3 separate regions of the Homo sapiens genome follow, and all the other regions are reported to be linked to region 1. The links are microRNA targets in miRTarBase. Many come from high-throughput screens and were not tested one by one. Region 1 holds a microRNA gene; each other region holds the end of a gene's coding sequence. Distances are from middle to middle.

What was found. Region 1 holds the annotated microRNA hsa-miR-513c-3p (UAAAUUUCACCUUUCUGAGAAGA, at 6,840-6,862, shown strand). A microRNA usually pairs through its seed, bases 2 to 8, with sites in the 3' UTR of a target mRNA and lowers its output. Matches are read on the target gene's strand: a 7mer-m8 pairs with bases 2 to 8, a 7mer-A1 pairs with bases 2 to 7 and ends in A, and an 8mer does both.
Region 2: miRTarBase lists IFNB1 as a target of hsa-miR-513c-3p. Seed matches in the 3' UTR shown: 7mer-m8 at 7,545-7,551.
Region 3: the mRNA of PIGA is a reported target of hsa-miR-513c-3p. Seed matches in the 3' UTR shown: 7mer-A1 at 9,604-9,610, 7mer-A1 at 8,476-8,482 and 7mer-m8 at 7,875-7,881.

Annotation. Positions count from the first base shown.
Region 1 is chrX:147,185,354-147,196,578 of GRCh38, reverse strand. It overlaps MIR513C (microRNA 513c), which reads left to right and starts at 6,792; the gene lies at 6,792-6,875. All of the region lies in intron 1 of LOC105373347 (periphilin-1), which reads right to left.
Region 2 is chr9:21,069,635-21,080,859 of GRCh38, forward strand. IFNB1 (interferon beta 1) reads right to left here and starts at 8,308. Exons shown (of 1, transcript NM_002176.4): 1 at 7,470-8,308. The coding sequence starts at 8,235. The coding sequence ends at 7,672.
Region 3 is chrX:15,311,694-15,322,918 of GRCh38, forward strand. PIGA (phosphatidylinositol glycan anchor biosynthesis class A) reads right to left here. Exons shown (of 6, transcript NM_002641.4): 6 at 7,763-10,079. The coding sequence ends at 9,813. ASB11 (ankyrin repeat and SOCS box containing 11) reads right to left here and starts at 3,947. Exons shown (of 7, transcript NM_080873.3): 1 at 3,732-3,947. The coding sequence starts at 3,912.

The DNA of each region.
Region 1 (11,225 bases):
TGAAGAAATGATAGTATTTAAACAAGATACTGGAAAATGTGATATATATATATATATATATGAAAAATATGAACCTCGATCCATATTTCAAACCATATACGGAAAATAACACAATTTTAGGCCAAAATGTCCAAGTATAAAATTTTATGAATAAAAGGCAGAATATATATATATTTTTTTATTTATATAGATATTTATTTTTAATCTTCTTTACCTTTCAGTAACTTTTTTCCCCCGATAATATACCATAGGCATCCTATCAATTATTATATATGATATCAAAATATAAAAGTAAAATTAAAAATAAGTTGATAAAATAGACTTTGAAAAAATTAAAATTTGTCTTCAAATCAGACCACTGAGATAATAAAAAGGCAATCTACAGAATACTAAAAATATATGTAATTTAATAATGTGATAAATAACATATATCCAGCATAAATAACTACATATAATTTAACACTCCTGTGTATACCAAGAATTTTACTAGTTACTTTTTAAAAAGTATCTGTGTTTTTCAATAAAATGTCAGTTCTATGAGGCTGTTTTGATCTGTGTTGTAGTCCTAGCACATGAAAAAAACCTGGTTTAATGGCTACGTATTCATTCTGGACCTTCCTTGCTATACTATAATTTTGTCACATCATTAATGTGAATATATTAGTTTATCCTCATAATTTATAATGCGTTAACAACATTTATTAGAGTTAGGAGTCAGGAACATGGAAAGGCAAGAACTCTAACTGAATAGGCTGAGTATATATAGATTTAGGGAGCTCGAAAGAGGGAAAGTAACTGCCAAAAACAAATTCTACATTTTTCCAAGTTATTCTTATATCCGAATTCTGTCAAAGAAAACTACATTTTTATTGATATCTTTCCTTTTTGGACCACGAGCACAATTCCTGTTTATTGCAGAACAACTTGGAAAACACATAAAAGGTATGAAAAACTTGAATAGCAGTAATGAAATAATACCATAATACCAGTAACATCATATAATATGGATACAGTTGTTGATAAAATTTAGATGTAGATCTTTCCACACATCTATCTATATTTACACTTACTTAGGTTTCAGGTTGGGGTCCACAATTTTGTAATGCATCATGAATATTTTATAAAAACATTGAGTTACCAGGTAAATAATTTTGAAAAATCATTTTAGATGCCATGTTTCATTCTATCATACAATTTTTTTTCTGATTGATTTCTGAATTGCTTTTATAGCATTTTAAATATTTTAAATGTTTTCTAAGTCTTGTCTAGTTTCTCTCAGATTTACTACAATATTCCATTTTAAATAGTGGGCTTTTTTGCTATTTATTTCCACCAGAATTCCACCTCCATGATCCAATCACCTCCCACCAGGCCCCACCTCCAACACTGGAGATTAGAGTTCAACCTGAGATTGTGGTGGGGACACAGATCCAAACCTTATAATACTGCCCTTCCCTCTCCAAAATCTTATGTCCTTCTCACTTTGCAAACTACAATCCCAGCATTCCCCCAAAGTCTTAACTCACTGAAGCATTAACTCAAAAGTCCACAGTACAAAGTCTCATCTGAGACAAGGCTAATTCCTTCCGCCTATGGGCCTGTAAAATAAAAAACAAGTTAACTTCTTCTAAGATACAATGGAGGTATAAGCATTGGGTAAATACTTGGGAGAAAACAGCCAAAAGAAAGGGGCTACAGGTCCTGCGCAAATCTGAAACCCAGCAAGGAAGTCATTAAATCTTAAAGCTCCAAAATAATCTCCTTCAATTCATGTCCCACATCCAGGGCACACTGGCAGAAGGGGAGTGCTCCCAAAGCCTTGGGTAGCTCAAACCCTGTGACTTTGAAGGGTTCAACCCCCAATGGGCTGGCATTGAGTACCTACGCTTTTTCCAGGCCCTATTACAAGCTGTCAGTGGATCTACCATTCTGGGGTCTGGAGGATGGTGGCCCTCTTCTCACAGCTCCACTAGGCAGTACTTCATTGTGGACTCTGCATGGGGGCTCCAACCCCACATTTCCCCTCTGAACTGCCCTAGTAAAGGTTCTCCATGAGGACTCCACCCCTGCAGCAGGCTTCTGCCTGGACATCCATGCTTTTTTATACATCCTTTGAAATCTAGGCCAAGGCTCCCAAGACTCAACTCTTGCTCTGGGCACCCACAGGCTTAACACCAAGTGGAAACCACCAAGGCTCATGGTTTGCACACTCTGAACCAGTGGCTCAAGCTGTATTGGGCGCCCTTTGGGCAGAGGCTGACACTGGAGCACCCAGGCTATCGGAAGCAGTGTCCAGACATTGCACAGGGCAGTGGGACCCTGGGTGTGGCCCACGAAAGCATTCTCCCCTCCAAACCTCTCAGACCGTGATGGGAGGAGGGGTTACTGCAGAGGTGTCTGAAATGCCTTTCAGGCCTCCCCATTGTCTTGGCTATTAACATTCAGCTCCTTGTAACTTCAGGAGATTTCTGCAGCTGGCTTGAATTCCTCCCCAGAAAATGGGTTTTTATTTTCTACCATTTGGCCAGGCTGCAAATTTTCAAAAGCTTTACACTCTGCTTTCCTTTTAAATATAAGTAAGTAAGTGCCAGTTTTCTATCTTTTTTTGTTGACACACATGAGCATAGGTTATTAGAAGGAACCAGGCCCCATCTTGAATGCCATACTGCTTAGAAATTTCTTCTACCAGAAACCCTAAATCATGACTCTCAAAGTTCCACAGATCCCTAGGGCAGGGGCACAATTCCACTAGTTTCTTTGCTAATCCATAACAAAGGTGACCTTTACTCCACTTCCCCATAAGTTCCTCATTTCCATCTGAGACCTCCTCAGCCTGGCCTTTAGTGTCCATATCACTATCAGCAATTTAATGACTGCCATTTAACAATTCTTTAGGAAATTTCAACTTTTCCTTCATCTTCCTGTCTCCCTCCGAGCCCTCCAAACTGTTTCAACTTCTGCCTGTTACCCAATGCAAAAGCTGTTTCCACATTTTTAGGTATCTTTATTTGGCTCATGCTTCTTTAGGCTGTACAGGAAGCATGGCTGGGAGGCCTCAGGAAACTTTCAACCATGGCAGATTCAAAGGAGGAGCTAGCACCTCACATGGCTAGAACAGGAGGAAGAGAGAGGCTGGGGAGGTGCTACACACGTTTTAACAACCAGACCTCGTGAGAACTCACGATCATGAGAACAGCACCAAAGGGATGGTGCTAGACCATTCATGAGAATTTCACCCCCATGATCCAAACAACTCCCACCAGGCCCCACCTCCAACATTAGGGATTATAATTCAACATGAGGTTTAGGCAGGAGCACAGATCCAAACCACATCACTATTGGAAAAAGTAGACATCATGGATGAGCAAATGAGGAATTTTAGCACAGAGATAGGAAGTGTAAATTTCTTAGAAATTTACAGTTAGAAAAAAGCAAACAATTTTGAGAGATAAATACTGATTTTGATGGACTCACATTATCTCTATAATAAACACAAATGACAATTTTTTTCAGACAAAGAAAATTTAGATTATTCACCCCAGTAGAAATGCATTACATGACATGTTAACACATTTCCTCAGGCAGAAAGAAATACCGGGCAGAAACATGAATCTAATCTACACGAACAAACTAAAAACCCAGAAAATGATGAAGATGACGATATGGATGTGAAACAGAAATATCTCGGGCCCCAAAATCACTAAGTTAAAGGGAAAATTCAAGCTGGGAACGGCTTAGGACAAACCTGCTTCCCATTTTACTCATAGTCACCCCTCTGCTCACTGAGATAAATGTGTATCTGAGTACCTCCTTTGGAAAGGTTAGTAAGTCAGAAGAATGCAACCGTTTGTCTCTCACCTACTTGTGACCTGGAAGCCTCCTCCCTACTTTGAGTTGTCCCACTTTTACTTCGAGTTTTCCCACCTTTTTGGACCAGACCAAACCAACGTTCATTTTACATATTTTTATCGCTGTCTCATTACTCCCTAAAATATATAAAACCAAACTGCGCTCTGATCACCTCGGGCACATGCCATCAGGACCTCCTGAGGCTGGATCACAGGTGTGCATCTTCAACCTTGGAAAAATTAACTTTCTAAATTAACTGAGACCTGTCCTCAAATTTTTGGGGTTCATACAGGGGTTATTTTATTATTTTCAATCAGTCAGTAACAGATAACAGTGTGAATAAATATGTATGTGGGAATTAGAACATTAATGAAAGTAATTAACATATATATTACAAAGGATGGGGTGAATTGTAAGTATACCATCATAAGATTTTTAAACTATACAAAAAGTAGGATCATATTCTTTGAAGATAGACTGTGATGAATTAAATATGGACACTGGAAACTCCAGAGCAACCACTATCTTTTTTTAAGTGACCAACTAATAAGAGTGCAGAAAATATAACTGAATGATAAAAATACTGAGTCTGCCATCAGGCAGAAAAACAGGAAAATAGGAATTAGAAAAGGATGAAACATAGAAAACAACTAGAAAACCGGTAGATTTAAATGCACATATATAAATAATTGTATTAATATAAATGATATAAATGCTTCTATTAAGACAGAGATTGTCAAATTACATAAAAATAAGAAACCACTAATATACTATGTCAAACAAACCCATTTTAAATATGAAGACCTATGTGAAAGTTGGGTAAAAGTAAAAAGATGGAAAATATATTAATGCAAACACTAAATATTAAAGCTAAAAAATCTTATTAATTATTAATAACACCACCCCGCCCACACACACACACACACAGAGAGAGCACCCCAATAAATGAACGATAAAGAACCATGGAGCTAAGAGAAATAGAATAGCATTTCCTGTCTTCCAGCCCATTATCTGTCTCGTCTCTCTCTCGTATTAATTTCTATGGATTCTTCCCCCTGCATAGCCTGAAGAAGAAATTAAATTTCTGCTCTCTCTAACCTAGTTTTCTCTGACTCTTCTGCACTTCTCTGCATCCAGGTGGTTGTATTCTGTGGTTTTTCTGTTGGAATTTAGGTCTGTGCAGCACAGCTGGAGTTTTAGGACAACAGAAAGCTTTAGTGAGTGGTTGGTCCTTTGTACTTAACTGTAATTTTAAGGGTTTTTTGTTTTTGTTTTTTTGAGACAGGGTCTCGCTCTGTAACCCAGGCTAGAGTACATTGGCACCATCTCTGCTCACTGCAACCTCTGCCTTCCTGGTTCAAGTGATTCTCCTGCCTCAGCTTAGAGTAGCTGTGATTACAGGTGCAAGCCACTACACCTGGCTACTTTTGTATTTCTAGTAGAGATGGTGTTTTACCATGTTTGTTTGACCATGTTGGTCAGGATTGTCTCAAACTTCTGGCTTCAAGTGATCTCCCCACCTGGGCCACCCTAAGAGCTGGGAATTCAGGCATGAGCCACCATGCCCGGCTGAGTCTGAAGATTTTTTTGAGACAGATTTTCACTCTTGTTGCCCAGGCTGGAGTGCAAAGGTGCAACCTTGGCTCACTACAACCTTTGCCTCTTGGGTTCAAGTGATTCTTCTGCCTCAGCCTCCAGAGTAGCTGGGATTACCGGCGCCCACCACTACGCCGGGCTAATCTTTTGTATTTGTAGTAGAGATGGGAGTTTTCCCACGTTGTCCAGGATGGTCTCGAACTCCTAACCTCAGATGATCTGCCCACCTTGGCCTCCCAAATTGCTGGGATTACAGGAGTGAGCCACCGAGCCTAGCCTGACTTTGAGGATTTTTTTTTTTTTATTACACTTTAAGTTTTAGGGTACATGTGCACATTGTGCAGGTTAGTTACATATGTATACATGTGCCATGCTGGTGCGCTGCACCCACTAACTCGTCATCTAGCATTAGGTATATCTCCCAATGCTATCCCTCCCCCCTCCCCCCACCCCACCACGGTCCCCAGAGTGTGATATTCCCCTTCCTGTGTCCATGTGATCTCATTGTTCAATTCCCACCTATGAGTGAGAATATGCAGTGTTTGGTTTTTTGTTCTTGCGATAGTTTACTGAGAATGATTTCCAATTTCATCCATGTCCCTACAAAGGACATGAACTCATCATTTTTTATGGCTGCATAGTATTCCATGGTGTATATGTGCCACATTTTCTTAATCCAGTCTATCATTGTTGGACATTTGGGTTGGTTTCAACCATTGTGGAAGTCAGTGTGGCGATTCCTCAGGGATCTAGAACTAGAAATACCATTTGACCCAGCCATCCCATTACTGGGTATATAACCCAAATGACTATAAATCATGCTGCTATAAAGACACATGCACACGTATGTTTATTGCGGCATTATTCACAATAGCAAAGACTTTGAGGATTTTTAATGAGACAAGCAAAATTACAGGAAAACCAATGGGATAATTCAGACAAGGATAACTCACCTCTGAAAAAGAGGAGAAGTGAAAAGCTCTATCATTGCTCAGCCTAAAAATCGGCGTGTTAATTAGCTGTTCATGGTGGTGCACAGCTTTAATCCCAGCTACTCAGGAGGCTGAGGCAGAATCACCTGAACCCGGGAGGCGGAGGTTGCAGTGAGCCAAGATCACGCCAATGCATGCCAGTCTGGGCCAGATTCCGTCTCAAAACAAAACAAAAATCTGCATGTTAATATCTCACTCAGGGCAGGGTGAAAAGGGGAGTGCTAGGGGCTAGAAGTTGCATTGTTACTTGGCATAAATCTTGGTGGCCATGCGAAGGCATACACCTATAGGGACTTGAATAAAAACGGCATGAATAGGGAACATTTGGTCTGGGATGCCACATTCAGCCATTCAGCGTACAGTGCCTTTCTCAAGGAGGTGTCGTTTATGTGAACTAAAATATAAATTTCACCTTTCTGAGAAGAGTAATGTACAGCATGCACTGCATATGTGGTGTCCCTAGGGATGGGGCTGTAGCTGCGAGCATGGTGATGCCTGTTTTGCATCCTGTGCACCCACTCCTCAGTGCTGGGCTACTTCAAGGAACTTTTTGTGCCTTCTAGACGACTACACATAAGAACTGTGGACTCCTGAGAAAACGCATGCACTTTGGTTCCTTAAGAATTTATCTACTTTTGCCAAATGAGGCTTGGCTCAAATAAGAAATACGTTGTATAGAGGCCACAGCCATTCTTCGTCAGCTGAGACATTTTACTCCAGATTCCTCAATTCTCTAAACTCTTTTCACTGATCAACTAGTCATCATTTGCAAGGATTGTCCTTTAGTGCTCCCAAAAGGCTCTCCTGCCTCTCAGGTCCCTTCATTGCTGATCCACAGTGTCCATTTTCTGTCAAAGACTAAAACATTTTCTCATTGACTGTTAAAATACCTTTCAAAGCCTTCAGTCACCAATTTATGAAGGGTTAAGCATAGTCCACCCAAGAATATTTCACCCTTTTTAATTATCTTTTTTCCCCATTTTTTAAGAGTATATTTGAAGAATGGAAGGGTATGACAGAATTGATACTCAAGAGATATCTCCTAGGCTTCTCTCCCCATTTTCTTTTGGTGACGCTTAACTCTTAACCTAATGGAGAGAAATAGAGGGAAATAAACACACACACACACACACACACACACACACACACACACACACAGAGAGAGAGAGAGAGAGAGAGAGAGGAGAGAGAGAGAGAGAGAACATGCAAGAGAAAGACAAGCACCAGACTATGTAAGGCCATCTGCAGCATTAATCTAGTATACATGTTTGGGAAGTAGGTTATAAATAAGCTATTTATATTGTGGAAATGTGTAAAAAATGTTATAAATAGTAAGTGATTAATACAATTTTGATTCCAACTGAAACAGAGGCTACAGCATAAACACCGAAAGGGAAAAACTATAAAAAACAATTACTATATGGTTACAGGCAGGATTTTGGTTTATGTTTTTTTAGATTCAGAATGTATGAATATGTATAAGACCATTAATGTCTGAAAGTAAAAAAAACAGTTGAAGTATCTTTTCCATAATGAAAAACATTGTAATAATAGAATACATACAATCTTTTTGGGGTGGGGGCAACATTCTGAACAGTAAAAAAATTTTGTCACTTTGCAATACTGTATGTACATAGAATTTTCCAAAGTGATAACTGTTTTTAGTATATAATTTCTAAAACTGTATTATAGTGATGCATGTTTACTTATATAACTTTAAGTGATATCTTAAAATGAAATAAAAGAGAATTTAGTTGTTATCATACCTCTGTTATGATTTCTCAAAAGAATAGTATATTTACTGGTATTTGTGTTTTTTTTCAGTGAAATACTGTTTTGTATTACTCAGCCTTTTTTCTTCCAATTTATTAAGGTTTAACTGACATAAAAATCATATTTAAGGTGTACAACATGACGTTTTGATATATGTGTACATTATGCAATGATTAAATCAAGCTAATTGAAAAATAAAATATGAACATAAAATATTTATTTGAAACTCTAAGAAAAAATTACAAGATCTCTGTGGTAGGCAGAGTAACAGCCCCCGCCCAAACAATGTTCACAATGTAACCCCTGAACTCGTAAGCATCATATTTTATTGTAGAAGAAAATTTGTAGATGTTATTAAATATTTTGAGATTGGGATTATCCTAGATTATCTAGGTGAGCCCAACATTATCACAAGGGCCCTTATACGTTGGAGAAAGGTGGTTAGAATGAGAAACATTGCAAAATACTATAGTATTGACTAGAGGTAGAGGTAAAGGCCATGAGCCAAAGAATGGAGAAAGTAACTAGAATCTTCTAAAGACAATCAAGTAGATTCTCCTCTAGAGCCAACAGAAGGAACAAAGCCCTGCCAATGCCTTCATTTTAGCCAAGAGAAACCTAATTTAGATTTTTGACCTTTAGACTCTAATATAATAAATTTGTGTTGTTGTAAACAACTAAATCTGTGGCAATTTATTACAGTATCAATAGAAACCCCAAAACATCTGTATGCTAAAACTGTAAATATACTAAAAAAAAATACTAATTAAGTGGCGAGGACTATCATATTTATGGATTGAAGGATTCAAATCTATAGACTTTTAGACTTCCATTAATCTCTAGAAGTAATACAATTCCAACCAATGTCCCAGAAAAATATTTGTAGACATTAGCAAGATGATTCTAAAACTGATATAAAAGGCGAATAAACTAGAATATCCAAAACAATCTGAAAGAGAATCACAAAGCTGGAAAATTTACACTTGTAATTTCCAGATTTACTGTCTAATTAGATTACCCAATGTACTGTGGTACTGAAGAAAGGATGGACAAATAGAAGGACCAGAAATATCCATATATGTCACCAATTCATTTTGACTAAGCTGTAAAGTCAATCTAATGAAGAAATGATAGTATTTAAACAGTAAGATGCTGGGAAATGTGAGATATATAAAAAATATGAACCTTGATCGTATTTCAAACCACATACAGAAATTAACACAATCTTAAGCCAAAACGTCAAACTATCAAATTGCATGAAAAAAATGAGAGAAAATATTTTTGACCATTAAATTATTACATATGATATCAAAATATAAAAATAAAATTTATTAAAAATAAATTGATAAAATAGACTTTGAAAAAATTAAGACGTCTTCAAATAAGACCACTGAGATAATAAAAAGGCAAATTACAGAATAAAAATATTTATCACATTATTGAATTACATATAACATATATCCAGCATAAATAACTACATATAATTTAGCACTCCTGTGTATACTAAGTATTTTACTAGTTACTTTGTAAAAATTATCTGTGTTTTAAAATGTCAGTTCTGTTAGCATGTGTTGAAGCTGTTTTGATCTGTGTTGTAGTCCTAGCACATGAAAAACCCTGGTTTAATGTTTACGTATTCATTCTGGACCTTCCTTGCTATACTATAATTTCGTCACCTCGTTAATGTGAATATATTAGTTTATCCTCATAATATATAATAAATTAAAATGTGTTCAGCTTAGGAGTCAGGAACATGGAAAGGCAAGAACTCTAACTGAACAGGCTGAGTATGTATAGATTCAGGAAGCTCAAAAGAGGAAAAATAACTGCCAAAAACAACTTTTACACCTGTCCGAGTTATTCTTATATCAGAATTCTGCCAAAGAAAACTACATTTTTATTGATGTATTTCTTTTTCAGACCATGAGGATAATTCCTATTTATTACAGAACAATGTGGAAAGCACATACAAGGTGTGAAAAACATGAATAGCAGTAATGAAATAATTCCAGTAACATCATAATGTGGATACAGTGTTTGATAAAATTTAGATGTGGATCTTTCCACACATTTATCTGTATTTATACTTAGGTTTTAGGATGGGGTCAACAATTTTGTGCCATTTTCTTATAAATGATTTCAAATAATGCATCATGAATGTTTTATAAAAACATTAGCCTAATAATTGTGAAACATGGTTTTATGTGCTGTTTCATTCTATCATACAATATTTTTCTGATTGATTTCTGACTTTTTTAGCATTTTAAATATTTTAAATGTTTTCTAAGTGTTTTCTACTTTCAGATTTACTAAAATATTCCATTTTAAATAGTATTTTCTTTTTCTTAGATTTTGTTCCATAATTTTTTTCATTAAGAACATACATGTATTATCACATTTAATCCACTCAAAACCCTCAGAAGGCAGTAGTTATTTTTATCATGAACTTACAGATAAAGAATGCAGCTTAGAGAAGTTAAATAAGTTGTTTAATGCTGTGAACCAAGTCCGTAGTCTGATCCTAGGGTTATACTGTAACACGAAAGGATACTTACACGCAAGACTAAAGAGGATCAAACCTGATACTCAACCTATGGCTGCATTCCATCCTGAACCACAGTGCCAGAAAACAGTGATTACAGTTTTCTATGATTCAGTGAGTTCACTGGGAGTTTCTTCTGCTTAGGCTCACCTGGGCTCAAACATGCAACTACAGACATCTACTCTGGGGTGGTCTAGAATGCCCCCTCACAAGGATGCAGTTCCAACTGGAATGGCAGGAACAGCTAGCATGGCTGGGCCTCTCCCTCCAGCTGGTCTTTCATTCTGGAATTGTTCTCAGCGTGGGGAGCTCAAGACTCCAAAAGGGCAAAGACAGAAACTGTGAAACATCTTAGGACTCAGCCTAGGAAAGTGAGCAATGTCACATCAGAAAGATTTCACTGATCAAAATAACCAAGCCAGCATCACCGCATAAGGAAATGAATTCAAACCCTGAAAGGAGAGAGACAAAAA
Region 2 (11,225 bases), not on the chromosome of region 1:
AACTGTCCCAGCTCTGGCAACCATCATTCCATGCTCTGTTTCCATGGGATTAACATTTTTAGATTTTACATGTAAGTGAGATCCCGTGGTATTTACAAGGCCCTGTGTTGGACCAAGTCATACATCCCATTTTTTGCATTTATTTCTCATAGAAATCTTGAAGAGTTTGGGGTATGATTGTTTCTAATTTATTTAACTTGCCCAAGACCATACTGGTACAAAGTGGCAGAACCCACAGTAGCTCTCAGGTTTGTATTATTTCATGCCCTGTGTTTTTGCCATCAGAGTATAGGAAACTTAAAAAAAAAAAAAAAAAAAAAAAAAAAACTTTGTACTTTCAATGCACAGACTTTCAATTCATGCATTTCTAGATTAGTAAATCATTTTCTGCTTTGAAAGTTATTTGTTTTACCTCTGGACTTTCATAAAAAGAAAATGAGCCAAGAAATTAAAAAGTGAAAGGAAAGAGAAATTTGCTGTGTATTTCCATTAAGTAATGTAAGCCATTTTAGTTTTTAAGCATTCCTGTGAGATAACAAAATCAGCTTGTGTCAGACTTGAGAGGGAAACTGCACACAGGGCTGTCTTGCTAGTACATGGATAAAAATGTAGTGCTCAAGAGAAGGAAATGCAGCCTTGCCAAGGGAAAAACGATGACTCATGATTCAGACAGTTGCTTACAAAAACCTTTGGAGAAAATATTCTCCGTAGAGTCTGGCAAAGGAGCAAATGGGAATTTCCTGCTATTCTCTTTAGAAAAAGGAAGAGAGAGAGAGTTCCCTTCTGCATGGGGATGGAAGGAGACCAACTGCTTGAGTGAGGACAGCAGTCCTTTCTGCAAAAGATCCCCACAGGCCACTGGACGTTAGTGCACCCACTTGGAGCAAAACCAGGAGTTGTGCTGTGCATGAGCTGCCGGGCAGTAGAGCTTCTTGTTCCTTCTCTAAATTGCAATATTTGTGCTATGTAGTTGGGTAAAAATAGCATTTTGGGTGGTAGTAGATGATTACAGGTAGTTAAGAGTATAGTCCCTGGTTCCAAATATGTCTCTGTTCTTTACCTACTGTGGATTTGGTCAAGTTACTTAACCTTACTGAGCCTCAGTTTTCTTATGTATAAAAAGGAGAGAACAATACTTACCTCATAGATGTTCTCTGGATGATTAAATAAGATGGTCTGTCTATCTATCTATCTATCTATCTATCTATCTATCTATCTATCTATCCATCCATCCATCCATCTCTCTAACTATCATCTATCGAGCTAGCTAGCTAGCTAGCTAGTTCATCCTCAGCAGATCCCTTGCAGAAAGTAAGTCCTTAAGAAATGTAGCTGTTATTGTTGTGTTTGCATTGTACTATCATTGCAAATATTTCCATTATGAAGACACAAGTTAAAAATAGTTGCCTTGATGATTTCTCATGAAATTAAATATGGAATTACTGCATGATTCAGCAATTTTATATCTGGGTATATAGCCCAAGAAGTAAAAGCTGGGACATGAATAGATATTTGTATACCCATATTCATAGCAGCATTATTCACAATAGCCAAAAAAAGGAAGCACACTAAGTATGCATCAATGGACCAATGAATAAACTAAATGTGGTACACACACACAAACACACACAGCCTTAAAACAGAAAGAAATTCAGAAACATGCAACAACATAGATGAAACCTGAAGACATTATATTATACTAAGAAGAATAAGCCAGTCACGAAAGGACAAAGTTTATATAATTAGTCATATGAGGTACCAAGAGTAGTCAAATTCATAGAGACAGAAAGTAGAATGGTGGTTACCAGGGGCTTGGAGAAGGACAAATGAAGAGTTGGTGTTTAATGGCTTCAGAGTTGCAAATGAAAAAGATGAAAGAGTTCTGGAGATGAATAGTGGTGATGGTTGCACGACAATATGAATGTACTTAATGTTACAGAACTTAAAATGTAACTTAAAAAAGGTTTAAATGCTACATTTTATGTATATTTTGCCACAATATGAAAATGGGAAAAATCATTTCCTTAAGCACTGGAATTTGTAATATGTAACTTGTATTGCACTTGGTGCAGATATGCAATGTGTGAAGTGCTCTTGGCTTTTCCCCCCATAGTTTTAGCACGCAGGGATCGTGATCCACTTCTTGGACTATCATTTAAAATATGGAGTATTGCAAATGTGCCATAAGTAAAAACTTTTAACAATCTAACCTCTAACTGACAATGAACTTAGACTGTAAGATAATTTTTTATTTCTAAGAGCCTGTTGATTTAATCTCATCTTGGAGTCTTATAAAAGAGATCTTAAGACATCAAACAATGTATGTTGAGTTTAACAAGGGAACACAACAAGATGCTTTGGCTCCATTTTATTTATTTTTCAGTAAATTTATACTTTTTTATTTTTCGAGAGGTTTCAGTGAAGTACAATGACATGTAATAAACTGTACATATTTAAAGTGGACACTGTGATAAGTTTTAACATGTATATACACCCCTGAAACCATCAACACAGTCAAGATAGTGAAAATGTCCTTGCGCTCTCAAAAGTTTCTTTGTGTTGCTTTGTAATCTCTCCCTCCATCTCACTCCTCAGTACTACTGCCCCCACCCCCAGGTAACCACTAATCTGCTTTCTGTCATTATAGATTAATTTTCCTTTCTAGAGTTTTATAGAAATAGGCCAATACAAAATTTATTCCTTTTTGGTCTCTTTTCTTTTCTTTTTTTTTTTGAGATGGAGTCTCGCCCTGTCACCCAGGCTGGAGTGCATTGGTACAATCTCCGCTCACTACAACCTCCGCCTCCTGGGTTCAAGTGACTCTCCCGCCTTGGCCTCCCGAATAGCTCGGATTACAGGCAATCGCTATCCTGCCCTCTAATTTTTGTATTTTTACAGAGATGGGGTTTCACCATGTTGTCCAGGCTGGTCTTGAACTCCTGACCTCAGGGGATCTGCCTGCCTCAGCCTTCCAAAGTGCTGGGATTATAGGCATAGCCACTGTGCCTGGCCCTTTTGTATTCAGCATAATTTTTTTGGAGATTCATCCATGTTATTGTGTGTATCAATGATTCATTCCTTTTTATTGTTGAATAATATTCCATTGTATGGATATACTACAATTTCTTTAATCATCCATTTGTGATGGACAAACAAAGCTCCCACAAACATTCATATACAAGTCTGTGTATATGAATGTTTATACACAGAAAAGAATCCTTTCTTTTCTCTTGGATAAGTACTAGGGAGTCGACTGGTTGGATCATGTGGTAGGTATATGATTACCTTTTTTAAAAACTGCAAAAATGGTTTTCCAAAGTCATTGGACCACTTTTTGAAAGTTCTAGTTGCTCCACATCTTTGCCAATCCTTGATATGGTGAGTCCTTTTAACTTCAGCCATTCTAATAAGTATGTAGCAGTGTCTTATTGTTGTTTAATTTGCATTACATTAAAGGTTAACGTTATTGGTCCTTTCCTGTCTTGTTTGCCATCTCTGTACCTTCTTTCCTGAAATATGTGTTGAAATCTTCTGTTTGTCTTTTAGTGGGTTATTTGCTTTCTTATCACTGAATCTTGAGAATTCTTTACATATCAATACAACTTCTTTATCAGAGAGGTGACTTGCAAATATATTCTCTCAGTCTGTGACCTGTCTTTTAATCCTCTTAAGAGAGTCCTTTGAAGTGGGCTCCATTTTTTTAAAAATTCGTAGGCTAATTGTTGGGGGATATAATTTGAATAATGCGTTATAGGTTTTCTAGGAACACCCTCTACATGAATGTCAAAACAGAATAATAACTGAAACATAATTGTCTGATTTGGTGATAACTATGATGTGAACATGTTTTTGGAGTACTCTCCATCAGGTCAATTAACGAGTTAAATGGTTAAATGGATCCTACTAAATTAGGAGAGTATAATTTTGTGCTGGCACTACTAGTCCAATTTTTGAGTTTGTCTTAAACTATCCTAGTAAATTTTAGGCAATTAAACTAATGTTTAAAAAGCAACAATTAATGTTGAGAACAAAAGGACTCATAAAACAGTTCATTTTTTAGGCTCAGCAAGCACCAGTGCAATGTGTTTAGAGAAAATGTCTGCAGTCAACAAGGTATGGCTCTGGGTGACATTCATCTTCTGACTCTATTACCAGATGCTGGCTCTCTCTGTGTTTCCCACAGCCAAACCCGTCAAGAAGAAATCCATGTTGATGAGGGCCCCCACAGTCTGTGCTTGGCAGACCTCTCATGCATCAGAAATAGAGCTTGGCCAAGAGGGCTGGTGAACTTTGCTCAGAAAGGACAGAAGCTATGGCAGGTCCCCATGATGGAAAGGGCTCCCCTGGGACCAAATCATTTCACATTCATTATCTGACCTACACCACCAACAATCCTTGAGAAAGATTTTACCATGTTAATATACTAATTTGCTATTTGCATGTCTTCTTTGATGAAGCATCTGTTCCAATATATTATCCATTTTTATTATTTTATTTATTATGTATTTTATTGTTTTATTAGTGGTTTTGTTATTATTGAGTTTTCAGAGATTTTAAAAAGTATATTCTGGAGATGAGTCTTCTATCAGATATGTGATTTGCAAATACTTTCTCCCAGTCTGTGGCATGTTCTTTTCATTTTCTTAAGAGTATTTTATGAATAAGTTCCTGATCAGATGTTATCTGAATACTTGAACGTGTTTAATGCCACCTAAAATGCCTAAATAACACCTTTGTTGACTGCAAAAAAGACTATACAAATGTGTGCTGATATTGCCCTGCATCTGCATGTTCATATATTTAAGCAAAATTCATATATTTGTATGTAACCCAGATGTTCACCAGTGCCTTCTTACTGTTCAAGAGCTAGATAAGACAGTTCCATCTCCTAATCCAGCTTTGTGGATTCCTAAGGTGTGATATGGGAAGGGGGAAGGTGGCTGTGTTGTCATTGTTTTGCCTCCTGTTTCTTCTAATTTGGTTCATCTATGAAGATCTGGCCACCCCATGTTTGTTCAAACATGAGACCGGGCACTTTCTATGATTTGTACACAGAGGTTTTACGCAGAGGACTTTTTGTGGTAGCCATTTTTATTGAAGTTTTGGAGATGATGTCGGACAGAGTTTCAATACATCAGCGCACACAATTTCATGCTGCACATGAGCTACGCTGTTTGGAAAATTCTTTTTTCATTCCCACCAGCAAAATTTTCATTGTCTGACTTGTTCCACGTAGTGTCACAGTTCCAGAGCTTTGGGGGATTTCTGTCTGTCTCCTTTCTCCTTAAAAGCTGACACACAAAACATGCTATTGATATTTTACTGTCTTTTCCGTTGCCACACCCATAACCTCAAAATCTCACTAGATATTGAGTGAAGCCTCATTAGATATTTTTCTACAGACTCATTAGATATTTTTCTAAACAAAGAGTGTTTTCCTTAAGACCTTATTCTGGTGCCAGCCAAAGTAATATTATTATTTTACTTTATTCCTCATGCCTAGTCATCGGTTCAGCACATGCAAATGTGCACCTTTGGGCTAGTTGCCTTCATTTTTATTGGAATTAATTTTAATTGTTACTTATCTTCTACTGGTTATGGACTTATTTTTGGCATTCTGGATGGGTTGACATGCTAAGCTGTGATACAGTATTTCTAATTCTGCAGAAGTGGCCTCTCTCCTGTCATTCTTGCCCCAACACGGAGGTAGAGCAGGTCTTTTCAAGAACTTGCCAGTTTCTGGGCCAGTTTAGCAGTTCAGCTCAGAGAAAGCAGTGGACAATAGGGGCCCATTGCTGAGAGAGATTTCTTTAGTTTCCTCTTGGCTGCTCTAGACACTGCCTGGACTCCGCATTGCTACTTGCTGATCTTGTCCTTGACTCCAGGAAAAAGAGGAGTTCGGCTACAGAAGGGCTTTTGGCAGAGCAGGGGTGGAGAGCTGGGGGAAGGATGAAGCTTGAGGGGGGCTTGACTGGTTTGAGTCAATGGCAGCAGGCCCCCCATGATGACATTTCTTGTTTGCATAGCCCGTGTGTGTGTTATCCACTTTGAACTGGAAGGGGGAGCCCTGAGTTCATTGTCTACACAATAGTAGCTTCTCTGGAACTCTTAATGAACAGATTACTTCTCCTGAAAGCTGCTTCTTTTAAAAGGAATTCAGATTTCTTTACTGCTCTAGGAAAAAATGCCTAGATACAAATAAAGACTTTTATGATGCTTCTCTTTGAACTTCTTTTTAAAATCTCCATTCACTAGAGACTGAATGAAATCATTATGTGACCATGGGCAGTTACTAAATTTCTTTGAGATTTAGTTTCCTCTCCTGTAAAATGGCAATAATGTACTTGTGCCTACCTGAGGGGTGCTTGTGGAGAAGATTAAATCCGATTATCTATGTGGGATCTCAGCACAGTGCCTATTTCATTAGAATTTCTCAGTAAACAGCAACTGCTAATGGCAGTAATAGCCACTATAACCCAAGTTCCCGAGTTTTGGTACAAAGACAAAAACCTAACCAGTCAGTCCATGCTGACCAGGTGCCCAAAGAGCTCCTAGAAAAGCTTGATTTTTTTCCCGGTGTAAGCCCTGGGAAAAATTAATGCCCTCTCTATCCCACCTAAACTTCCCTTTCTCCTATGTTTCCTGGCTTTTTGCTTGGTTTGAAACTGGACTTAAACTGCTGCACCTCTTTCATTTGGCTTTAGGAACTATGTGGCGTCCGCAATGCAGAGCAACAGAAAACTGGACAGGACATTCCTGGAATTCTGTATGAACAAGGCAGTGGGGACTGGAAGCAGGCTTAGTTTTTTGAAAAACTAGGGAGAAAACTAACCAGATGGCTAGGGTATAAAAAGGTTCTTCTTCCTCTGATGCCTGTGCCATGCCAGCAGACAGGGACCCACAGCTCCCCTAAGATACCCACACATCTTGGCTGTCCCATGATGAGCAGAATAAAGAGATTGCTGCTTAATAGTGTCATGGAAGTAAATGGGACTTCTCACCCTTAAGCTTGCAGGGATGGTGGGGGGCACATAATTATTTAAAAATCTTTCGAGGAGCAAAGTATCCCCCAAATAACGTGGGAAGGTTAGGGAGAACACAAAAGCTGACATATTCCTCTGGCTATTCCTGATGGCCAGCTCAATTCTAACTTTATGATGAGAGAATCTGGAGCACACAGTAGGAGGAATGGGAACCCCAGGTTTAGTTCCAGACCCTCCAGCTTTCCTTTTCTCTTTTAATCCCACAGCAGTTCATGCCATATTTATTCCCCCATAAGGTTCAGGTCCCCTTATTGTCTCTTACCTTATATATTCCACATGGCTTTCTTGAATTTTAAATTCCTTAAAGGCAGGGGCCAGAAAGTATACTACTTTGCAGGTATATTTTAAAAAGAACAACTAATAGGTACTTGGCAATTTTATAATATGGATGGTTATATAAATCAAATCGAAATTAAAACTGCCATGTTGACTTTTGCACCAAAAATAATTTATTTTCCAAAATAAAATTTAAATAAATAAAAATAACTCATAATTTAATAAAAATTTCAAAATCTTCTAGTGTCCTTTCATATGCAGTACATTAGCCATCAGTCACTTAAACAGCATCTGCTGGTTGAAGAATGCTTGAAGCAATTGTCCAGTCCCAGAGGCACAGGCTAGGAGATCTTCAGTTTCGGAGGTAACCTGTAAGTCTGTTAATGAAGTAAAAGTTCCTTAGGATTTCCACTCTGACTATGGTCCAGGCACAGTGACTGTACTCCTTGGCCTTCAGGTAATGCAGAATCCTCCCATAATATCTTTTCAGGTGCAGACTGCTCATGAGTTTTCCCCTGGTGAAATCTTCTTTCTCCAGTTTTTCTTCCAGGACTGTCTTCAGATGGTTTATCTGATGATAGACATTAGCCAGGAGGTTCTCAACAATAGTCTCATTCCAGCCAGTGCTAGATGAATCTTGTCTGAAAATAGCAAAGATGTTCTGGAGCATCTCATAGATGGTCAATGCGGCGTCCTCCTTCTGGAACTGCTGCAGCTGCTTAATCTCCTCAGGGATGTCAAAGTTCATCCTGTCCTTGAGGCAGTATTCAAGCCTCCCATTCAATTGCCACAGGAGCTTCTGACACTGAAAATTGCTGCTTCTTTGTAGGAATCCAAGCAAGTTGTAGCTCATGGAAAGAGCTGTAGTGGAGAAGCACAACAGGAGAGCAATTTGGAGGAGACACTTGTTGGTCATGTTGACAACACGAACAGTGTCGCCTACTACCTGTTGTGCCAGAGCAAAGGCTTCGAAAGGTTGCAGTTAGAATGTCCTTTCTCCATGGGTATGGCCTATTTATATGAGATGGTCCTCTCTCTATTCAGAGGAATTTCCCACTTTCACTTCTCCCTTTCAGTTTTCCTATGTCATTTACATTTTAGTAGTTTCTAAAACTCTTTATTTAAGCTCCTATCTTATGATATATATAATAGGGAAAAAGATTTACAAACTGTGAGGTTTTCTAATGTTTTTTAAAGTTTCAGTGAATGACTAAAGCAAATTGTAAAACAAGACTTGGGAGAAAGCAAAGGAAAGCAAACGACCTGAGAATTCAAGAACCTCAAAACACTAAAAGATACAGTTGGTCCTTCCTATCCATAGGTTCTGTATCCGTGGATTCTACTGACTGTAGATGGAAAATATTTTTTAAAAATACAATAAAAATAATAATACAACAACAAAAAATAATGTAAATTTTAAAGATACAGTGTTACAGCTATTTAGCATTTATATTGTATCAGGTATTATAAGTAATCTAGGGATGATTTAAAATATACAGAAATACATGTGCAGATTATATGCAAATACTGCAACGTTTTATAAGAGGGAATTGAGCATCCTCTGATTTTGGTATCTGTGGAGGCAGCGGGATGGTGGTCCTAGAACCAATCTTCTTTGGATACTGAAAGACTGAGAGATAGATTTACTGAAAAGTCAATCAGGGAATAGTAGCTGAAACTGCAAGGAGTTTTGCCCAATATGATAATAGATTAGTGTGAGAGGGCCTTGGAAACTTCTGAAAGGCACTGGAATAGTCTAGGGTATAAGAAATTTTCAAACCAACCAGTCACAGCCCTTTTGATCCTACACAGAGGAGAAACTGCCACAAGTGGAATCACACTTCAGCAGGATATAAACAACACAGACAAGGATAGAGAAGGCCCAACCAGGGTGGGATGGAGAACTCAGAAGGCAGGCTGCTATGTTTTTGACCATTTCACAAAAGCTAACAGAAGAGGGAGCTCTGTGAAGTTAGAAAAACCGCCCTGAACCACTTCCTGGTTCAGGAAAAATAAGCTCTTACAAGACCAAACAACAGAAAAGTATTAAGATGGAATCTCATACAAAGTTATTAATAGAAAAAAGAGAAGGCTTTGGGAAGATGGCTGATTAGAAGCAGTTGTGGTCTGTGGCACTCTGCTCTTTGGCCAGGATGGTCTGACTGCCCTGAGCCTGTCATGCTGTGAGAAAGCCCAAACTAGCTTACAAGGAGAGACCATGAAAATTGGCAGTGTATTTCAAAATTTAAAATTTCAAGCAATGAGATTGTTCCTTTAACTTGCAATACCGTTACTAGTTATTTACTATGGCTATCCCTGCAGAAATATGCATGTGTATGTGCATGTGTATTATAGATACATACAAAACATATATAAATGTTGATTATATTACTATCATAGTAACAAAGACAAATGTCCATCAGCAGGGAGCTTGTCAAGTAATACTATCACGTGGACAAGATGGAATATTATTCAGCCATCAAAAAGGACAATCAGCTGATATAGACACATATCACAGATACATTTAGTGAAAAGAGCAATACACATAAGAAAGGATATGATATTATCATTTGTTTTGTAAGTTACTAGAAAGGTATACATATGATGCTGTTATATGCATATGATTTTTTCCTTTGGGTAGAATTACTATCTATTAATAGTAGTTACCCTGGGGAATAATGCTGATGGGGTGAGGATGCAGCAAGGAAGAAAAATCTTTATCTTTTCACTTCATACCTTTAGAACTATCTGCATATGAGTTTTTCCTTGTAATGAGAAGAGGTCTGGGAAATAGGGTTATTAGGCCACTAGGGAATTAGGTTGTTACATTTGTAATTTCGTGCACTTGGAGAAAATTTAATAAATATTACTAAATTTTAACATTTATTTTGTTTTATTTGCATTTAAAATGTTCTATTATGAGCATATATTATTTTTGTCATTAGGAAATTTGAAAGACACCAGTTAATATTGAAAAATAGAACATAAAATTGTACATACAACATGATTATGCAAAAATATGTAGAGAAAATTAATAAAAGGAAGTAAACCACCATTTTAATAGTGGCTTGATTTGGCTTGTGAAACTAAAGAGTGATTTTTTTCCTCCTTTTATTCTTTGTATTTTCCAATTTTCCACCAGTAAACAAGTATTGTTTCATAATAGACTAATTTACATTATAAAATAAACGAGTCCCAACCTTTCTGGTTATTCTGCCTCTCTATGGGTTTCATTCTCTCTGGCCTTTTGGCCTTTGCAGGCCAGCTCTTAGCAAGACCTTGGCCATCTCATGCATTTTAAAAACAATGAGTTTCAGAATATTAAAAAAAACTCGGCTCTTCCACTCAAAAATGTCTGTTATGTCAGTATTTGAGTAATTCCTTGGGGTTTTGACGAGCATTCTCGGATTAGTCTGGAATCATCCATGGCTCATAGCACAAAAGCCAATGCAAGGAGCTTCAGAGGTTAGTCAACCTAGAGATGGCTGTCCCTCTCAGGAAAGAGGAGACAGTCTATAGAGTCTGGTCACTGGGGCCTGCTCCTATAGAATGACTTGCAGGCTTGTATATAGTTGACCTTTCCAGGTGCAACAGAAGGCCTCATCACTGCCCACATCAAATGGTCTCTTATCCTCCATCCGGAAATGGTCCTTAGAGAGTTCATAATCTAATACAATAAAAACAACAGTAGTGGCGGTAGTACTAGTTATCATTTATTAAGCACTTGCTATTTGCCATTCTTTGAATAATCCTCATAGTAAACATTTGAGATGGGTTATTATCATCCCCATCTTACAGAGGAGAGAAATGAGGCTTAGAGAGGCTGTGTAATGTGTGAAAGATACACACTGCTAATAACATGGGTAGATTGCACTTAAAACTGTGATCTTTCCTGTAGAATATCAA
Region 3 (11,225 bases), 130 Mb from region 1:
CAACGTCTTATCTGCACTTGTAAAGTTCCTCCAATTCTGAAAACCAAGCTTTACCCCAAATTTGATGCAAACTTGTTTAGCAGCAAAGCATGGCCAGGACTTAGGTTAAGCAATTTATTATTTGTTTTATATTTCCATCTAGTGTGAATACCTATATGTTCACTATAGAAAGATCAAAATGTTTGACTGTGGGAGGCAGCTCCAGGCCCCACCAGAAGTGCTGTGCAATAGACAGTATGCACATTGTATGATCTTTCTAACATTCAAAAGCTATTGAATTCTGAAACATGGCTGGCTGAAGGGTTATGAATAACAGATGATCAATCTGTATCTACACTATATTTTCTTTCTTGATGACCAAGTCACAGTACTAAACATAGCTTAATACAAATTAGCAAAGCTTGAAAAATCATACAATACATCTCTCCTGAGAAAGTGCCTGCAGAAATATCTATGGACTGAAGGTGGGATCCAGTGATCCATCTGGTGCTCTAGGCATAACACCAAAGGCCAAGGACAATGTATTAAACTTTAAAAAAGAAAAAAAAATATACATATAATAGACAAAATAAACAAAGAAGCTTAAAAACCAAAACTAATAACAGTCAACCATGGCTTAATTCAACTATGATGAGTGATCAGCAAATGTAATAGTTTAAGCCACAAAGACATATAAAATAATGTATTCCAGACTATGAAATCCACCCCCACCCGCCCACTGCACAAAAAAAAAAAAAAAAAAACAACTTTCCAAAAGGTTTTACAGCACAAAGAATGATATTTAATGAGGCATGTGGTGTTAAATGCAGCTTCCAAAAAAAAAAAAAAAAAAGAGTGCTCTGGACCTACAAAAGTCTAACCTGTGTGCTGGCTAGGTTTTTCCTGCCCTTCCTTGCTTTTGACATTGCTGACAATAGTTTACAGGAATAGCATATGCTAGCAGACTCAAGAAACTTAACCTTGGGCTGGGACTTTTGTAAGTCAATTAGCTAATTTACTGATTAAATGTCATATATTTTCCCAACAAACATTTGTCTGACCAGTGCAAAAGTGACCAAAAGCAAAGGTGATTTCTGGTTTGAGTTTGATTTCTGGTTTGAGTTTAACACTTCCACAAAATTTTGTTCTTGATTTTTAATACACCTAAATATATTGTTATGGGATAATTTAGGAATTAGAGAGACTGAGGGGTTGAGGAGGATTTATTGTTTAGGTGTATTGGCCTAGTTGCATTAATATTTAAAGGACTGGGTTTTGAATAAAGAGTTGTTATTTTTTAAGTATTTTGTGGGGCGGGGGAAGATTTGTAATAATATAGTATCTGACTGTTAACAGTGGTATCAAAAGAAAAACACAGAACCATGTGAAAAATACTGGTCCAGGCATGTTACTGCCTACATTCTTATAGAAAGACTTATTTAGCGGCCAGGCACAGGTGCTCACACCTATAATCCCAGCACTTTGGGAGGCCAAGGTGGGCAGATCACTTGAGGTCAGGAGTTCGAGACCAGCCTGGCCAACATAGCGAAACCCCATCTCTACTAAAAATACAAAAATTAGCCGGGCGTGGTGGCGTGCGCCTATAATCCCAGCTACTCAGGAGGCTGAGGCACGAGAATTGCTTGAACCCCAGAGGAGGAGGTTGCACTGAGCTAAGATCGTGCCACTGAACTCCAGCCTGGGTGACAGAGCAAGAATCCATCTCAAAACAAACAAAAAAACAGAAAGTCTTATTTACCAAATCTTGGTAAATTTGGGGGTGGGGGGATTCGTGTATATGTATACACACACACACACACATATACATATATATATGAAAGAAATAAAACTGGGAAATTAACATGCACCATTCCCTGCCTCTTTAACAATAATTGAAAAATGTTTTTGACCTTAGAATACTATGCTACTTGCAAATTAACCTATTTTAAGAGATTGAACAAGTAAAGATATTTGCACTACAGAATGAACGAACTGTATTTAAGAGATTTGTATTCCAGCTCCAGATTAAATTCAAACCATGCTTACATGGGTTTTGACTATAAGGAGGTTTTATACCTTTTTTAAGAGTGCACTTGAGGCCGGGCGCGGTGGCTCACGCCTGTAATCCCAGCACTTTGCGAGGCCGAGGCGGGCGGATCATGAGGTCAGGAGTTCAAGACCAGCCTGGCCAACATGGTGAAACCCTGTCTCTACTAAAAATACAAAAAAATTAGCTGGGCATGGTGGCGTGTGCCTGTAATCCCAGCTACTCAGGAGGCTAAGACAGGAGAATTGCTTCAACCGGGACCTGGGAGGCGGAGGTTGCAGTGAGCCGAGATGGTGCCACTGCACTCCAGCCTAGGCTACAGAGCGAGACTCCATCTCAAAAAAAAAAAAAAAAAAAAAGAGTGCACTTAATTAAAGACCACAAAGACAGAAATAATGCGCAGGTGCAACAGGAGAAAACATTTGTAACATGTTCTTGCCAATATTGACTTTGTTGGACTTCATCTAATTTAGACCAGAAGAATGATTTATCTATGAGAACACCAAAACTATTATTGAAAATTTTAGAAAGCCCTTGCCCAAATTGACAAATTAAATTAGAAGATAACTTTTCAGATCATGCTTAACTTGAAACTTATCAGAAGCATTACTTTTTTTTTTTTTTTTTGTAACTAGTCAAAGTAACATACCTCCCTGAAATGTGTGACAAATATAATCCCCAAAAGAAATCTCTTTCCATGGTCCGGACCTTCTGATACGTTCTGAAACTTCACAATTCTTCTCATTTTCCCCAGTTAATTGAAGCATTCTGATGCTTCGTCCTTGGAGGTCTTATTTCTTTAGATAAGACTGCTGTTGTCTAGTGTCTTCTGAGTTGTCTAGTGTATTGGAATCACATAAGACTATTTTGAAAGAGAATCCTGGATGCAAATTGAAATGGATACTAGATAAAGAATGATGTAATCCTGGAACCCCTGCAAACACTAAAAATACACGGGGAAATTCTGAACTCTGTTTATGAATAAATACTCCTCTATTAAGTGACAATCCCAGGAGTGACAGGGATATCTGACTCATTTACTTTTGTAGCATCTCACCACAATTAAAGTAAATCATTTCTTGAAAGAAATGGACACTATTCTCTACAAAGCATGAGAATTTAAAATGTTTTGCCCAAATCTTGGCATTTCATGTTAGAATAAACTTTGTTTGGAGTGCTTTGCATGCTACCATATAAAATGGGTTTAGTGAAGAGCTTTTCCTGACAGTGACAAGTGGTTAATCAATTCCAGTTGCAAATGACAGCAAAAAAAATACACATAGCTTGCCACGTTTGCTGCTTTAATTATAATTTATTAGTCATTCTATTTCCTGAGAGAATTTAGTCTGGTTAGAATGCCCTTCATTGTTAAAGTTTGCTTTAAAATATTAAAGAAAATAATTATATACAAGTAATTACTTTGGCTAGTAGAAATGAAGTTTCTCAAAATACTCTTAGTAAGCCACTACCTATTTACTTCTTAAATAACAACTGCTACAAGATCTACGAACTTGCAAAAAATAAAGCTGAAAATCCTCCACAAATTGATGCAGCCAACAGCATTTGCTACTTTAAGTGACAATTTTTCAAACTACCCACTTAAAATCAAAGTATAAATATAATCTGCCTTCCAGAAATACTAGTCATATGAATTATCTAGGAGGGATTTTCTTTAAATATTAGGAACAAATTCATGTACTTTTACCTGAAATTCCACCATAGATCTCTTCTGCTATCCTAGCCGCTTCTTTTCTATTTCCTTTGACGATATAGAAATGGGTTAGGAGAGCCAAAAAAACTTTAATTAAAAGCTTAAAGAAAAAAAACGTAGCAAACATTGTAATAAAAATGTTTTTAAAGCCATAGAAAACAGGACCATCTTCCATTTTGGCTTATGCTCTGTATAGGGTCCTAGGACTGTAAAATTTCACTGAGTTATAATTGGTATCATATGACATCTATTTTAAACCTTCTAGCACTCAGTGCTCCTGTTACCGAGATCTCTGTAGGTTCTAATCTAACTGATTTGGCGACTGCATGTGCTGACTCCACAGCAGTGTTAAATAAACTAAAGAAACTTCCTTCTAACCAGAAACATCCAATAGTTCTAGAACTACATAACTCAGTACTATCTAACAGATAAGATTCATATCCAAACATTTTATATTCCTAAACCCCTATTTTTCCTATTTTATGTTAGAAAGCAGGGTTGGAAAGATAGAAACTTCTTGGCTTCCACAGAAACAAAGCAAGTTATTTGACATACAAAAGAAGTGCAAATATGCTGTATGTTCTAAGTGGGAAATACTACTCCCTGGAGCATTTCATTTTCTCTTAATTCTGAAGTTTATAGAGGATTAAATCCAAATCTAAAATATGACCAGTTAAAAAAGACCATTTACCTGGCCGGGCGCGGTGGTTGACTCCTGTAATCCCAGCACTTTGGGAGGCTGAAGCAGGCGGATCACCTGAGGTCAGGAGTTTGCGACCAGCCTGGCCAACATGGCGAAACCCCCGTCTCTACTAAAAGTACAAAAATTAGCTGGGCGTGGTGGCAGGTGCCTGTAATCCCAGCTACTCAGGAGGCTGAGGCAGGAGAATTGCTTGAACCTGGGAGGCGGAGGTTGCAGTGAGCCGAGATCGCGCCACTGCACTCCAGCCTGGGTGACAAGAGCAAGATTCTGTCTCAAAAAAAAAAAAAAAAAAGACAATTTACCCTAAAGCTGTATGTATGTATGTATGCATGTATGCACGTATGTATGTATTTAGTTTTAAGATGGAGTCTTACTCTGTTGCCCAGGCTGGAGTGCAATGGTGCGATCGCGGCTCACTGCAACCTCTGCCTCCTGGGTTCAAGCGATTCTCCTGCCTCAGCCTCCCAAGAAGCTGGGATTACAGGCATGCGTCACCACGCCTGGATAATTTTCGTATTTTTAGTAGAGACGAGGTTTCGCCATGTTGGCCAGGCTGGTCTCGAACCCCTGACCTCAGGTGATCCACCCACTTTGGCCTCCCAAAGTGCTAGGATTACAGGTGTGAGCCACTGCACCCGGCCAAGCCTGTATTTAATAAAAGGCCTATCTTGGATGCCTCTCCAAGTAAGTGTCACACTAGAAGCATCAGACTACTCGCCATGGTAGTTCCATCTGGGACAAGGTCCCATGGCAAGGTTCCCTCCTGATCATTCACTTGCATTTCAAGCATTGGTAAAGGTGGTGCCCATTTCTGAAAAATGTGGGCTATCCTTGATCATGGAAGAGTCATAGTGAAATGGACAAAAGAGATGCCCTAGGTTCTGGATGAAGTACCCAAATATTTCATGAATCAACCTTCTCTAGTTGGGCAATTTTCTCTTATCAGCTGGCCAACACAAGTGAAATGGGTTTATTTTTAGTTTTCCTCATCACTCTAGGTCTCTGCCTTCATTCTTGGCTATGTTCGATTTTGTAAATTTTAAAAATCAATTGAAAAGACAAGCCAAAATATAGTTATACAAGTGGCCTAATAAATCTTAACAAATGATTTATGCAAAAATATGGGAATTTCTCCTAGCATGCAGGCAAATTAGAATGACTGCCTGGTTAAGAACTGTTTCACTACATTAAAAAGCTGACATGTAAGAATACAATCTTGAGTCACAACATACAGCTCATCGATTTCAGTGTATCAGAGCACTATAAAGACCTTGAGTCGTCTTAACTCTCAAGGAACAGACATTAACATAAGATTTACTTTACTGAGCTTATATTACCTGGTAGAATGCCAGTGTATGAAAATACATGAATACAACTCTTTTAGTCCTTTTCATTTATCTTTCTTCAATTATACTCTAAGTAGGCAATCATTTAGTCATGTCAGACCAGTGATGTACATTGTTCTATAACATTATTCAATCTTGTTTTGGTCTTTTCATTTAAAACATGGCTGTCCTATGTTTTACACGCCAAAAAAGTTGGCCATGAAAAGCTCAACTTTATTAAGGTTCAAATGGGTGTCTATACTATTTCTGAGAGGCCATCTTTTTTTTTTTTTTTTTTTTTTGAGACGGAGTCTCACTCTGACTCCTAGGCTGGAGTGCAGTGGCGCAATCTCGGCTCACTGCAAGCTCCGCCTCCCGGGTTCACGCCATTCTCCTGCCTCAGCCTCCCAAGTAGCTGGGACTACAGGTGCTCGCCACCACGCCCAGCTAATTTTTTGTATTTTTAGTAGACACGGGGTTTCACCGTGTTAGCCGGGATGGTCTCGATATCCTGACCTCGTGATCCGCCCACCTCGGCCTCCCAAAGTGCTGGGATTACAGGCGTGAGCCACCATGCCCGGCAAGACCATCTTTACTATATTTGAACATTACATTTGTGATGGGCATAAAAGGCTACTGATACATAAGGACAGTTGATTCATGCTATCTTTCACAGATGAAATCATCAACAGCACCAAGGTTTCTCAGCCTCAGCACTATTGACATTTTGGGACAGATACATGTGTTGTGGGGGATGGCCCAGAGCATCGCGGAATGCTTAGCAGCAACCCTGACCTCTACTCACTTGATGCCAATGCCCCACCCCACCTAGTAGTAACAACCAGACATTGCCAGATGTCCCCTGGGAAACAAAACTGTCCCCCCAAGCCCTAGTTGAGAACCACTGAGCCATACCCAAATAGAAATGATAAAGGATAAAAATCAGTTCCCCCAAGTACTAAAGGCTACAAATCAAATTCTACATAGAACTTTTTCATAATTTTATATTAAAAAATCCAGCCACAGGATGATACAATTCAACATCTAGCCACATCCATTTGGGAATGCAGAGATGGATAAAGAGGCTTTAAAATTACTTCACAAAAGTAAACACAGACCTATACTACCCTGACTTTGCCAAAAATAAGTTTTGGCATAAGATAAATCAAAACATAAACATAGGTGACTGCTTTCCACTGCTTCCCACAAAAGGAGTGGGAGAAACTAAATCAGGGATGTCCAATCTTTTGGCTTCCCTGGGCCACGCTGGAAGATTTGTCTTGGGCCACACATAAAATACACTAACAGCAGATCATGAGATCAGGAGTTCGAGATCAGCCCGGCCAAAATGGTGAAACCCCATCTCTACTAAAAAATACTAAAGTTAGCCAGTGTGGTGGTGGGCGCCCGTAATCCCAGCTACTCAGGAGGTTGAGGCGGGAGAATCATTTGAACCCGGGAGGCGGAGGTTGCAGTGAGCCAAGATCGTGCCACTGCACTCCAGCCTGGGCAACAAGAGCGAAACTCCGTCTCAAAAATATATAAATAAATAAATGAAAATACCCTAATAGCTGATGAGCTAAAAAAAAAAGAAAGAAAGAAAGAAAGAAAATCACAAGTCTCATAATGTTTTAAGAAAGTTTACAAATTTGTGTTGGGCAAAGTAGAAAGCATAATTATGTAGCTCACATACACAGTATAGTTTGTAGATATTTTCCTTGTCTCACGTGATAATGCTAGGGCAATGAAAAACAAGGGCTTATTTGGGTAAGGAAACAAAGGCACAATTGAACTCGCTATTCCATGAGTGAGAGAGAGAAGATATTCTAGAAACAAAAAATGACAGAGTAATTCATCGCCCAAAGGGTATTTCTTGTTTTACTAATAGACCAAGCAACACATCCAAATTGCACTGAAAAAGAATGTGTCGGGGGCAGGGATAGCCTGTTCCACTAGTAAATAATAGTCTGTTCATAAAATAAGACAAACTCAGAAAATTATCAAAATGTCATTCTGGTCTTTATTTTTGGACATGTAGCATGTTTTAACAAATCAGTTTTTCATAGGCAACCTTTTGAAACATCAAAAGAAATACAATATATTTTTCACAAATTTCTCATCACTGTAAATTCACTTTAAAATCAACTAAGTAGCAGGGTAGAGCAATGTGTTTCCATATACCGACCAGTGCAAACTGACAGTTACAATTAAGGTATCCAGAAAGGTTGAAAATTAAGATTTACGTGAAACAAATTTACTTCCATTTGTTAAAAAAAAGAAAAATAATAATTTGCAAATCACATGTTTTACAGGCAAAGGCAACTAACTTTAGATCTTATTTCCATCTCAAATAAATGACAGTTTAAGAATTAAATGACAATTTAAAAAAATTAAGCAAAAATATAAGGAAAAAATGGTGGCATGCCTCTAAAACCTGTTGAATAGAATAATGGCCAAATATTACAGTTTCTCACTTTCCTATGAATACTGGCACTGTTTATTTCATGTTTATATGTGAGTTTCTATGCATAAAAATCCCAGTAAGACTGAATAGTTTAAAGATCAGTCCATTTTTCTCCAACAAAACCCCTAACTTCTAGATTTTAAAAATTGCACTCTTGCTTTTGCATTTTAGTACAAACAAAACACAAATATATTTCTTTTATATCAGTGCAACCAGTTAATAGGCATGTTATTTTTTAAAAAGTAATAAATTTTGTGAATGTTGTCATTTTTAAAAATCCTATACAGAATCACAACACTGTCAGAATCTATGTAGTGCACCCACAAGTGCCTTATTGTTTTGAATTCACAGTCCTTTTCTCACAAAAACCTTAAGAGTTCAAAGAATTCATAATACACACCATGTGGATAATTTGGGGTTAAAAAACCCATGGCTCTGGGCAACAACAATGACAGTTAATAACATCCACCCACAAAGACTGTTTCTAAAATTTTCAACTTAGTTTGCTATAAATAAACCATTCTGAAGTAAAGCCTTTTGCACACTGACAATACTTATCAGACATCAGCGAGGCCACAGTGAAGGGGAGTGACTTACATTAAAAGGACAGGGTAGCAGCTGGTTTTGGGATGGCACACCTCGTACATTCTGCTCAGAAAACACGAAGGCATTTATAGAAAACTCAATTATGCACTGAAAAATGTGGAGGGTTTCTCTGCACTATCAACAGTGATATCGGTCCCCAGTATTTAAAAAGCAAAAAATACCTTCACAAACACAACTGAAGATGGAGGCTCTACCTAGGAGAATGCATACAACAGGAACAAAGTACTAGTAGTGTGTCGGTGATTTTTTTCCTGGCATTAACTGGCATGAGCATTTTTGGCATGTTGGATATTGATCTCATATCAACCACAATTATGATGAAGTAAGCCATTTGAATGGTAAACAAAGAGTGAATGCACCCCTGGTCCTTAATGGCGGGAAGCATCTAGTTCAACATTCTACACAGAGCAGGGGTTCAAAATGTGCTGGTAACTGATGGACTATCTTACTCAAGGAACCTGTTAATTACATGTAACACCTACTGAGTGAACCTAATAAATGTTCAAAGACATGATTTAGATTCCTAATAAATGTATATGAACATGATATAAAACAGTTCATATAATTGTTGTAGTTCCCCTAAAGAAAACTTGTAAACATCTGGTGAGTGTCTAATGGTGTTACATTAAAAACTGGCCAAAAAATGCCCAGAAAACGTTTGGCCCTTCAGCACCCAAAGCTCTCAAAATATAATGTTAAAACATCTCTGCTACAGGGATTTCAGTAGTCTGAAAAATTGCATACCTGAGTGGCTTAAATGTTCTCTCCTAAATTTTAAATAAGTGCAAGAAGTTTCTACACTCAGGAATTGCATACATTTTTATCTTTCCTCAACAGAAAATATTGAATGATATAGAGGTAGCATAACTTACTAAATTAACTCTAAAAAAACAAAAACCCCCCAAAAGCAAGGTTATTTTCCATAGTCTTTATAGAACTATTACAAATGTTTAAAATCTTACAATCTAGGCTTCCTTCTACCTGGTTTCAGATATCTCATTATTCTCACCCCCTCTTTTACTGTGAGAATAGTTATTAGTCCAGGCACCCCGTGGCCCAGTGGCATCTATTGCAACATCAATGATAGAATCTGGAGTCATCCATCTCAAGAAAATGAGGAAGAGGAAGTTGAAAACTGCCAACAAAGCAAAGATGTAGCCTGTTACTGGGCCGCAGTGAGAAATAAGTCTGTCCAGTCGTTTGTCCATTGGCAACACAGCTTCCACTGATACCCGGTCATATACCTGGAGGGAGAGAAGCCAAGTGTGAGCACTTTCACCCATCACCCCATCACCTGTCCCATGATAAACAATGACCCGATCCTGCAGGAACATTTTATAAACAAATACAAACAAAAGTTGCTTGTGTTTTGTTGTTGTTGTCATAGTAATGATATCCTTAATGAACTTAATCACGATAATTATTGCCATTTGATTCAAAACTTATTGGGTACTTATTCTGGGCAAGACACCGGGCTAGAGGCTGTGTGATACAAAGAATAAGCCACAGTTCCTCTCCCCTAGGGAGTCACCATCAATTTTAGCCAACTACTAGAATTCCAAAGTCCCGCAAAGTCTGAACAGCTTTTGGGGTCACCACTGTAGGGTCAATATTTAATTCAGCAGTGACTTCAGCAGTACTGAAGCAGGATTTGCCTTTGAAGATTCCTTGACTAAGCTGAGATGCTCTCACCGGCATCTGGCAGACATCAACCACAAGCAGAGAGCTACAATCTAGCATACTTCTGGGAACACAGAGCCTCCTCTTTCAACAGCCACATGAGGCTGTACATGTTGCTGAGCATGGATGGTGAGGACATGCAGAAGCATTTCATGGATTTCAAATAAAAGAAGATAAAGAGATGGGGGAAATTTCAGTAGATAGTATAGGTCAAATGCTGGCAAATGAAATAACGTTTTTTGCTGAGCAAGTAGGTGGCTTGCTTTTTAAAACACTGCTAAGTACTAAGCTCTAAAATATCAAAAAACGAAGATCTTTAAACATACTTGTTCAGAACACATCAAATGGGCCAACATTCATATTTTGTAATTTGAGTATTACTTGTGCTTAGTCTCATATATTAGACCTTTAAACCGTCTCCTTTTGAACTCAAGGAAGTTATAACATGCAGTGCATGTTGTACAGGTCAACAGCCCTTGAAAGGTACGGCATGTTTTCATCGAGCTCTTTTACCCTGAGGACATTCTGAATACAAACATTTTAATCAGAATTATGTTGAGAATTATGCTGAGACTGGTGAATTGCAATTGAAGAAGTATGTTTACAGCATGAACTCCAAATTAATTTCATGATCGATTTCCTAAATAGCACAGTTAAACTAAGAAGGAGGAGTTGAAATGAATTAAAATGTCATAGGGTTAAAAGAGTAA